Linked DNA regions of Homo sapiens. The protein of the gene in region 3 purifies or fractionates together with the protein of the main gene of each other region. This does not show direct contact. Each region holds a gene or a part of one and is shown on either strand. Other genes may lie near its edges.

Region 1 (3,654 bases), on a different chromosome or scaffold from region 3:
AAGTATAAGCCCATTTCCTATGGAAAACGCAATGATTTATTTCTTCAGCACAAGCTTTCCAGCAAAGAATGCCATTGAACGGAATGCCTTGCTGTGACTGGCTGCATACTCTACCCAACAGAAGATATACAAGCAAAGAGGAAACACACTGTCTAGAAAAAATATACAATTTCCTTTTATTTCCTCTTCTCAGTAGAACAACTCTTCTTTGGGGACCAAATCAGGGACTTGTAACAATTCACCACATAATATTTTCCATTCTCACAGCCAGTAAAAATTAGAAACCAGGAGAGTCAAAGAAAATGGCCCAGCTATTCTCAGAAAGGCAAGGATTTCTGTGGTGGGGGCCTCACATGTGCTTCTTACCCAGCAGGAAGATCTGATGCCTGAAATCCAGATCCCCCCTAAATTAGCAAGAATCCGTTAAGAAAAAAAACATATATATCCTTTAATTGCTCTATAGTTTACTCCTGCTTGGCTGAATCATCAACTGTTTAAGGATGTGTGGTGAGAAAGAAAACTGTAAAGAAAGGTAGATGTAAACTGAATGACTTCGAAGTACTAGGGCAGGCTGTAATTAACTAGCTGGCCAGATGTGGAGCCATAGGAAGGTTCGGAGAAGACAGGACTCTAACCTATGGAGGTGAATTGGTGACCATTATAGGACAGCCCAAGGGCAGAGGAGATGAAAGGCTGAGAGAGTTAAGAGGCCCCATATGATGGAGGTTAGTTTGCTGGTTAACTGCCACTGTATTCGCTTGCAATTTAATTTCATTTTAGCCACATTAATCCCATGGCTTCAAAGAACTCATCTATTTTCTATTATGTTGCCTATTAGAAAGATTATACACGTCTTTCTTATTAATTAGTTCAATGGTATGGGATGTCCTTTCAGAGTTCTGATGCTTAGAAAACAGCAGATCTCTATTTGATATGTATGCCAGTATCAACTTAGTCAACAATGTGCTCATTAGAGTATAATGGAAGCAGCAGTTTTTGACTTCCGAGTCTAAGGCAAAAAAGGCCTTGCAGCTTCCTCCTCAGTTACCAGAAAATTCCCAGAGGTAGTCCTGAGTGCATGTAAGAAGCCTGATTATCCTGGGGAGGCCATGTATGGGTGATCCAGTGCACGCACTCCCAGATCCGCCCAGATTTCCAGCCAATCTTGATAAAGCACCAGATTTGTAAGTGAAACAGCTCCAGATTCTGGATCCCAAGTATTAAAGTCATCCCCTGATGCTTGAGTCTTCCCAGTGGAGGCCCCAGACATCATGGAGCAGAGACAAGACTTTCTGCTCTACCCTGCCTATCCTTGACCCAAAGAATCCATATGCATAATAAAATAGTTTTTTTACACTATTAAGTTTTAGAGTGGTTAACTATGCAGCAATCGATAACTGGAACCATATGTACAACAAGGAAGGTGATAAACCCACTGTTTATGGAACCCACACTTGAAATATGATATTTAGTTCTAGGTGACATCTTTCAAAAGATTAACGAACAAACATGTTCAGAAAAGAATAACAAGAATGTTCCTTTATGGGGAAAAAATGAGAAAACTGGAGTATGTGTTACATACAAACACAGATACATACAAACAGTATGTGTTAATTGCCCTCAACCGTTTGCAGGGCTATCATGAGTGAAAGTGAAAACAATTACTCTATATATTCCCAGAAGGATGACCTAGAGACAGTGGACGGAAGTTACAGGTAGTCAGATGGAACAATTTTCTAATGTGCAGAGCTTTCCTAGAAGAAAGAGGCAGCCTTGAGAGGTAGCAAGTTCCCTAACTTTAAAGGTAATCAAGCACGCTAGATGATCACCACTTGATAAGTAGGTTTGGAGAGAACTAATTTAATGAACAGAAGGTTGAATGAAATATCCTTACTTTAAGGTCACATTTTAACACTGAGATGTTTTTCATCTAAAGATCATCCCATTTCCTTATGCTAAGAAATCTAATCCCAACACATGTTGAGCAGAGGAAAAATATAAGATGAATAAATTAAAAGAAAGGCAATACCAAAGTATAAATAGAAAGTGATGCAGAACTCTAGAGGAGAAAGGAATGGCAAACAGGAACATATAATCCAGCATAACAGAAAAAAAAAATCTTTTTAAAATTTGAAGCATGAAGAAAGAATTGAGGAAGAGGAAAAAGCAAAGCCAAAGAACCCATCATATGCAACACTGGGTATAAAGGATGCCCTCATCCTTCTTGAGAAACGATTTCATTCATTTTTAGGACTTCTTTTCTCCGTCAGTGGGAAAGACAGACCAGAAGAACATGGGTAACACAGCAAACAAGGGAACAAAGTTCAAGCAGTAAAATTAGCAAAGCTCTTCAGTGACCACTGAATTTCTGGCCTCAAAAGATACAGGATCTGTGTGCCTATAGGATCAGGTGCACTTGTATGGATACAGCTATCTCTAATGTTTGCATGTGGAGAATGACTACTAAGGGAAGCAAGAAAAACTCAAAATAAACCCTTGCTTCCTAACAAAGCCATGTGAAAAAGAAAACACAAACCATCTAGAAAATGAGATGTGTCCAAACAAAAGCCATGGAGAAAACCAAAAAAAAAAAAGAAAAAGAAAAAGAAAGAAAAAGAAAAAAGAAAAACGTTAAAAAGTTATCACATACACATTGTGTATGAATTTTAACACCATTTGTAATCAACTTCCAAGGCTTCATAATACCCTTTAACTTTAGTTACTCAATCTACTGAACAAATCATCTCATTGTTACCCTATTTGAAGGAAGAGTGGAGCCTCTTTTGATGTTGATAAGAGATAGAAAAATGAGTCCACCTTCAGGAAAGAAAAGTGTTCTACGTAAACACCTGGAGCCTAGTGGTAGGAAGTGATGATAATTTGTCTCTTGACTTAACCCTTTCAAAGATTCATCAAACCAGAAGTTGGAAATTCATGTAATCGACGAAATAAAACTTTTCTCATTTAATACAACAGAAATTTTTCTTTAAAAAAAAGAAGAAAAATTATATCTTATTACTCACCCATTTCCTAGGTCTGCCTCTTGGCCGTTTTTCTCCAGTGGCTTCTGCTTTCTGCAAATGAAAAAGGAAGTCATTATAGTTTTCTACCTGACATTGTTTATAAGTACTGCACCAAGGGACACATTTGAAGTAAGAATGTTCTGCTTTGCAGATGACGTATCGGTTTTTTTTTTTTTGTTTTTTTTAACAAACTTCGTCTCCTCTAAGGTTAATCTTTTTCCACATTTCTGAGTAGATTCTTCTTCATTGCATGATGTAAAGAGGTATCTATGCAACCCCTCGCCCTAAAAGACACCCCCTGTAGTGATCTCTTCTGAAATACATGAAAATGCTTTTTCAAAAGCTATTTTGCTTTTATTTCTGTCCATATTAAAAACATTATCCCCACATTCTGTAACTACATAAGTTAGTATTTTAGAAAATTAATATTTCTTAAGATGATCAAGATTCTTTCCATGTCACAACTAAAGTTGCAAAAATTAATATTGACATATTACTTTACAATTTACAAAGCTCTTCTACCTATATTGGTAGTCAAAAGCAAGTATAAATGTGAAAAAGAATACACAAGCATTCTAATTCAAAATAACAAATATTTGCACACTTCTACATGTTTAATTTAATGTTCCTT
Region 2 (3,654 bases), on a different chromosome or scaffold from region 3:
TGTCCACTGTGATAGTTATTTTGTGTGTCAACCTGACTGGGCCACGGGGTGCCTGAGATACTTGGTTAAACACTATTCTGGTGTTTCCATGAGGATGTTGTGGATGACATTAACATTTCAATCAGTAGACTGAGTAAAGCAGATGGTCCTCCCTGAGGTGGGTGGCCCTCAGCCAATCATTTGAAGGCCTAATTAGAACAACAAGGCTGATCCTCCCTCAACTAACAGGGAATTCCTCCTGCCTGACTGCCTTCTAACTGGGTTATTGGCTTTTTCTTGCTTTCGAACTTGAACTGAAACACTGCCACTTCCTGGGTCTTGAGCCTGTCAAACTTTGGAATAAAACTACACCATAGGTTCTCCCAGTTCTCAGGCCCTTAGACTCAGCCTGGAACCACACCATTGACACTTTTGGGTGTCCAAGTTGCCAACTCACCCTACAGATCTTGGGGTTTGACAGCCTCCATAATCACATGAGCCAACTCCTTATAATAAATCTGTATTTATATCTGCCTATATCTGTATCTATAGATATACACATTCTATTGGTTCTGTTTCTCTAAAAAAAGCACTTAATAGCCTCAACCCTCTCCCCATGAACTATATCTGCATAGAACCTGTCCTACTTTCACTACCACTGGGACAAAGTGACCAAGGTTTGCCTTCTTCCTCTTTCTTCTATCTATTCTTGGAGTCAAATGAGTGGGAAGAGAAGGGAAAAGCAGTAAGCCACTTAAGCTACAGGCCCTAGTCTTTTTTTTTCTTCCCACTTTCATTTCTAACCATGATTTACATCAGGATAAAACAAATAGATCAGGAACAAAGTTAGAAAACTTTGATTTGTGAATTCAAAATCCACTCAAACTCAATACATGTGCAAATATACCTCTTTGACAAGAAAGCACTCCTCACAAAAAAAAAACTCTTTTCTTTAAAAAATTATGTCCTATACTATTTAAATTCATCTTAAAATAAAAATCATATTATTCAATAAAATTTTCTTTAAAGAGCCTTATAAAAGAGTTCACACTTGAGACACAAATAGTCCTGAACATTCGTTTCTCAGCGTAACTGTAAAGTGCTCTTTGGGAAAAAAAATTCTACTTAGGTTATACTTTACTTTTAATTCTAGGGGCTCTCAACATTTCTGAGAATAAAAATTAAAGGCCAACAGCAAGACTGTAATTACTTTTTAATCGTTCTCCCTCTTCATGGACAGAAGTGACCTTTCTTATCAGCTCAAAATCCCAGACCTTAGAGAAAGATCAAAGTGATGAATTTCCAATTTTAAATGTCAAATCCAGAATATCTCCTACAGATTTAGCTACCCAGGAGAGAAAGATTTTAAAATACCTGAAATTCTTTCAATTGACTCTTGGATCGATCACGTGTAAAAATTATTTTGCCTTAACTACTTCAATGGCTTAAAGTAGATTATGTCATACCCTACTCAGTAAGGAAAACTAATGAGAATCTTTTTAAAAGGCAAAGTCCCATTTTCATAGTTGTGTGGGAGGAACATGCTACGCATTCTATTCAGATGGATCAGCAAAGGTGCAAAGTATGAATAAATGGCCTCTCTGTGTGAAAGGATTAAACAAATCACATGAGTTAATGAAAGGTTTAAAAAAAAAAAAAACCCTAGAAAAAGTTTTAAAATGCCATTTGTTAAAGAATAAATTATACAAAAGCAGCTAACATCATGACATGAGCATGTAAGCTGTCACCATGGCAAGGAGGTTGTCTTATGTAATTCTAGATGGTGGCATGTGGAACCACAAAAAAGGCAAAATTTGACTCTAAATCTCCTAGTGTGTATTGTGCTCAAGTGATGTACATAATGCCATCATGTCACCTTAGGCTTCAGAAAATACGAATTCCTGTCTGCATATGTGACTTCCTGCCACAAGAATTTAAACATAATCTATCTTTCTTATGGACGGTTCCTCTCTTAGCATTACTAAAGGTATAAATATGAGGTTAGGGATAAAAGTAATTAATACTTCTAGTTTAATTACTAGTTTATAACAATTAGCATGTTTACGTTTTCATTTAGTATTTTTATTTTTAAAATAATTGAACAAACCACAGCTTTTCAAATTTGAATTAGCAAGACAGAAAAGTAAACACATTCTGGAAAAGCTCAAAATTCCTTGTTCTTACCATTAAAGGAAATCTTAATGTTATTGAATGAAATTTGTATACTACAAGAAGGGAATAATATATTGGCTTGTTAGGCCATTCTCATGCTGCTAATAAAGATATACCCGAGACTCGGTAATTATAAAGGAAAGAGGTTTAATTGACTCACAGTTCCACATGGCTGGGGAGGCCTCACAATCATGGCGGAAGGCAAGGAGAAGCAAGTCACATCTTACATGGCAGCAGGGAAGAGAGAACTTGTGCAGGAGAACTCCTCTTTATAAAACCATCAGATCTCATGAGATTCACTATCATGAGAATAGCATGGAAAGACCCACCCTCATGATTCAATTACCTCCCACGATACGTGAGAATTGTGGGAGCTACAATTCAAGAGGAAATTTGGGTGGGGACACAACCAAACCATATCACTGGCCTTTAGAAAAATTTCCAAGAGAAGCATCAGCTAGTATCTTTCATGCTTTTAAGATGACTCCTCTTATGGCACAATCTGATGGAGAAGAACATTTGATGCAGAGCAGTCTTCCTGGATGTGCTTACCGGATAGGATTGGGAGGTGGAGGGGGAAGTGGTGGTGGAGGAGGAGGTGGTGGAGGTACTGAATTCTCAGACTGGTTCACTCGTTTCTGGAGTTCATCAACTGCACAGAGAGCAAACATTCAGAAGAGAGCTGAAATAAGCAACTAAACATTGTTTATACATGTGAAAAAAAGAACATAACCTTTCTCAAAAGTAAGTTCTTTTTATTAAGGCAAAATTAGAAATTTCAATATGAAATTACAGACCTTTTTAAACTTTTCACTATCTAGTCTATTGCTAATGCAAGAGAGGACTCCTATCCATCAATATTAAATGTTATCTTTTTGCTGTATATACAACTTTAGAAAAGAAAAAAATTAAAAACAATGGCTGAAGGGTAGGAAGGAGTAGGCTGAAGAAATATTTGTTAACAACGAAGTATATGACTCAAACACTAAGAAATTGTTAATACTTTAAAAGTGTACAGACCAAGAATTAATTTTAAAGATGACATTTAGTAATGAAATTTAATAGCTGCATACTTCTCTCCCCTGCTTAATTTCCTTCAAAAACTGCAAATACTAGAGTCTTTGATTTTAACCAGATTCAGCTTCCTAAATCTGTAACTCAGAAACTTTTTGCTCTTTTGAAGAGATTTCTGGAAATGTATCGTATTCCTTCAAGTCTTTCATGAGGAAGGCATTTTACTAAGCACCAATGATGTGAAAGTGCCTATGAATGGTGCTACAGGAGACGTAACACCTGACTTCAAAGAACTGAACTTAAGTTGATATCACAGGTGCTAATACCTATGAGATAATGGGTAAAAGGTGCTGCATACTGTTGGCACTCAGAGGTAGCTCTCCCCATCCACAGCCATTCCACTTTCCCCGACTGAGTGTACCCTCAGGGATCTGTCCATTTGTATTTACCCTCAACACTTAAATAGGCAGTGTGGGCTATGCTCTCCAA
Region 3 (3,654 bases):
TTGGGGGGCTTTCAGTGAGGAGCTGAGTAGGGGCCCCGGTGTCACTGGCGTTCACAAGGTTGTTGACGGGCAGAGTGAGCGTCACATTGCCGCCCCCACCTGTCAGCTTCACCACATTGGCCCCGCTCTGCACGGGGGTGGTGGTCGTACTCGACTTCTGGATGGGGGCTGGCTTGATGGGGACAGGCTTGTGACTGGACGGTGAGGGGGTGATGATGGCTTGGTTGGTGCCAGGGATGATCTGGATCTGGTTGGTGAGATTGGGCTGTACTTGGATGGTTTGGGAATTGCTTGCCTGAATCTGAGGGACCGCCTGGTACTGGATATTGGCATTTGATCGGGTCCCTTTGTTGATCATGGTGGGATTCTGGATAGCGAACACCAGCTGCCCTCCAGGATAGGAGGCGCTCAGTTGTGACCCCTGAATCTGAAGTATATTTCCTTTGGAGGACAAGATTCCAAAGCTATTCTTGCCGGGGCTGAGAGGGAGAGGGGCAGGTTTGATAGGGACAAGTTTCCGCGGTGTGGGCTGTGGGGGAGCAGGAGGTGTCACAGCAGCTTCAACTGCTGGAGGGCCAATTTTGCTACATGTTGCAGCAAGCAGGGCTAAGGGAGATGGCTGGGAGTCCTGCAAAAAAACAGCAGAGAAAAGGAGTGAGACAGGAAGGCCCGCTGCCCGGCCGCCTCTGTCCATGATCCTCTCCTCCTGGCGGCATTCCACGCCAGTCTTCCCCACCTCCGGGGCAGGCATGTTGCCAGTACCCTCCCCTGCTTGGCTGCTGTCTCCCCTTCTCTACTGGTTTCTCCATTAAGTGAGGGAGAAAAGGTGGGCAATGTCTTTCTCAGGAAGGAACCCCTGGCAGCACCCCACAGACAGGGTAAACTAACAGCACGAGCTGACTTCCTACTCTCCGCTGGCCTTGTTTCTAAGGACAGTGAAGCATGTTTGGCTCTCAGATGGAGTTTGTTAGCCCACCCCAGGGACTGAGGGGTCCCTGATTGCTCAACTGAGGAAAGGAGGGAGGAAAAAATGGAGGGGCAACAGGAGGAATAAATACTTCAGTAAAGTGCTTTTTAGTACTCGGAACATGTAACTTTATAGACTGGGGAGGGCTACACTTTCGAGACAATGAGAAAGCCTCTGTTTTCCTTTTCCTTTTTTAGTGAGGTCTGGTGGAAGGAACACAGAGTTTAATCCTTGTTTTTCCCCCTGGCCCAACTGCGGCACCTTAGGTAAATGGCCATAGTTTCTCAGTAAAGAAAATGTGGCTAACTGAACCTTCCCCAGTCTCATAACCTAGGGTATTTATAGTGAGACAGTGAAGAGAGAGTGTTTTCGGTGAGTCTGTCCAGGATGCTGCAGCCCCAAGCCCTCGGAGCCCACTGCCTACTCGCCTGGGTGGTGGAGGCGGCAGGCTGCAGGTAGTCACTGGGACTCACAGCAGCAGTGGCAGCCATGCTGGTCTGTGGATCTGTTGGAAGAAAAGAGATGGAGTAATGTATAAAATGCCCAAAAAGAACGCAAGCCCACTTGCCTCAGATTTTCTTTTTTTCTATTTTTTTTTTTTTGAGACGGAATTTTTGCTCTTGTTGCCCAGGCTGGAGTGTAGTGGCATGATCTAGGCTCACGGCAACCTCCCCCTTCCAAGTTCAAGCAATTCTCCTGCCTCAGCCTTCTGAGTAGCTGGGATTACAGGCGCTGCCACCATGCCCAGCTAATTTTTGTATTTTTAGTAGAGACAGAGGTTTCACAATGTTGTCCAGACTGATCTCGAATTCCTGTCTTCAGGTGATCCACCCGCCTTGGCTTCCCAAAGTGCTGGGATTACAGACATAAGCCATTGCACCCAGCCAGATTTTCTTTTTGCCTCTATTTGTTGCTGCTTCTCCAAGGGAAGTTAATGACTTTTCCCCAGACTTACCCACCCTGGGTTGATAGCCTTACATCTATTTCAGTAGATTACTTTCTCCTCTCCTCTCCTCAGACTCAGCCATCTGAGGCTGTGAGGACAGCTGGTCCTGCTGTCGTTGGACTGCCCCCTCCAGCCACCACAGAGTCTGAGATAACACAAAAATAACCAAGATTATACCAGGACTCTCTTCTGTAACTCAGCTATGCCCTCTCTGCTGGGCACTGCTGGCTCTCCATAGCTAAACTGGAACTCCTCTATGGTGGGCAGGGGGGAGCTCCCCAGCTAATCCTCTAGCTCAAACTCAAGCCTCCTGTTCACTCCTGCTGTAGACAGATGCCAAAACTGGGAGGGAAGTATCGCTCAGCCAAGATTTCTGACAAGGAGGACACACCTGCTCCACTGCCAAGTCTTGGGTGTTTTATGCTCAGCCTTCACCACAAAGGCCGTTGTCCCCAGGCAGCATATACAGCACATGGGTCAATTCTTTTTTTTTTTTTTTGAGAAGGAGTTTCACTCTTGTTGCCCAGGCTGGAGTGCAATGGCACGATCCTGGCTCATTGCAACCTCCACCTCCCAGGTTCAAGTGATTCTCCTGTCTCAGCCTCCTGAGTAGCTAGGATTACAGGCATGTACCACCATGCCCAGCTAATTTTTGTATTTTTAGTAGAGACAGGGTTTCACCATGTTGGTCAGGCTGTTCTCAAACTCCTGACCTCAGGTGATCCACCTGCCTCAGTCTCCCAAAGTGTTGGGATTACAGGCGTGAGCCACCATCCCTGGCCTCATGGGTCAATTCTTTACTTGAATTTACGCTTTTACATAGTACAATAGGCACGGCCCCACAGGCATCAACCAAGACTCAGTAGAGCTAATGACTAACTGGATATAACAAGGAGAATGAAAACAGAGTAAATTCTATTTTTGTTTAAATGTGTATATATTTCTATATATGAATATAATCAAATAGGAAAAAGTCTTAAGCCATTATCTCCTAGCGGTTGAGTTTTGTTTGACTTAAACTTATTTTGCACCTTGGTTTTCTGTACTTTTTCATTTTCCCATGATAAATATATTCTACTGTACTTTTTTTCTTAAATAAAGAAAAATAAGGTTGAGGAAGTAATGAAGGGACTCTCTACTGTGCACTTAAGTCATCCAAAAGAGGCTAGGTACAGTAGCTCATGCATGTAATCCTAACACTTTGGGAAGCCGAGGTGGGAAGATCGCTTGAACCCAGGAGTTCAAGACCAGCCTAAGCAACACAGTTAGACCCCGTCCCTAATAAAAATTTTTTAAAAAGAAAGAAACACAGTATCAGGAAAACGAAAGTCATGAGAATTTTAGGAGAAAGAATCTATACCATCTTAAAGTGCATAAATCACTAAGGAAAAGAACACCAGGCAGAGTCAGACTTCAATCCTGGACCTCTGGAAAGCAGATTTCAGTAAGTACAGAAATAAGAGGGGTATTACTTTAAAGACTAAAAGAGACAAAAAGGCTCAGGATGCATTCTGCTTGGAAGGCTGAGATGGAAGGATCACTTGAGGCCAGGAATTTGAGGCTGCAGTGCCCTATTATCACACCTGTGAATAGCCAAAACACTCCTGCCTGGGCAACATAGCAAGACCCCATCTCTTAAAAAAAAAACAAACAAAAAGGCGCAGGGGTTGAGTCCTTGTAAGGAATTTGGCAAAAAGAGGATAGATATTGGGCTGGGTGTGGTGGTTCACGCCTGTAATCC

The links.
Region 1: the proteins of SP2 (region 3) and HMGA2 purify together in Homo sapiens (affinity purification with mass spectrometry; one large-scale study listed by BioGRID and IntAct). This does not show direct contact.
Region 2: the proteins of SP2 (region 3) and SHTN1 purify together in Homo sapiens (affinity purification with mass spectrometry; one large-scale study listed by BioGRID and IntAct). This does not show direct contact.

Annotation. Positions count from the first base shown.
Region 1 is NC_000012.12:65,837,939-65,841,592, reverse strand, and holds part of HMGA2 (high mobility group protein HMGI-C), read right to left. Parts: intron 3,075-3,654; coding exon 3,024-3,074; intron 1-3,023.
Region 2 is NC_000010.11:116,925,089-116,928,742, forward strand, and holds part of SHTN1 (shootin-1), read right to left. Parts: intron 2,804-3,654; coding exon 2,704-2,803; intron 1-2,703. UniProt on the Homo sapiens protein: Involved in the generation of internal asymmetric signals required for neuronal polarization and neurite outgrowth.
Region 3 is NC_000017.11:47,913,130-47,916,783, reverse strand, and holds part of SP2 (transcription factor Sp2), read right to left. Parts: intron 2,059-3,654; exon of another isoform or gene 1,923-2,058; intron 1,473-1,922; coding exon 1,396-1,472; intron 629-1,395; coding exon 1-628. UniProt on the Homo sapiens protein: Binds to GC box promoters elements and selectively activates mRNA synthesis from genes that contain functional recognition sites.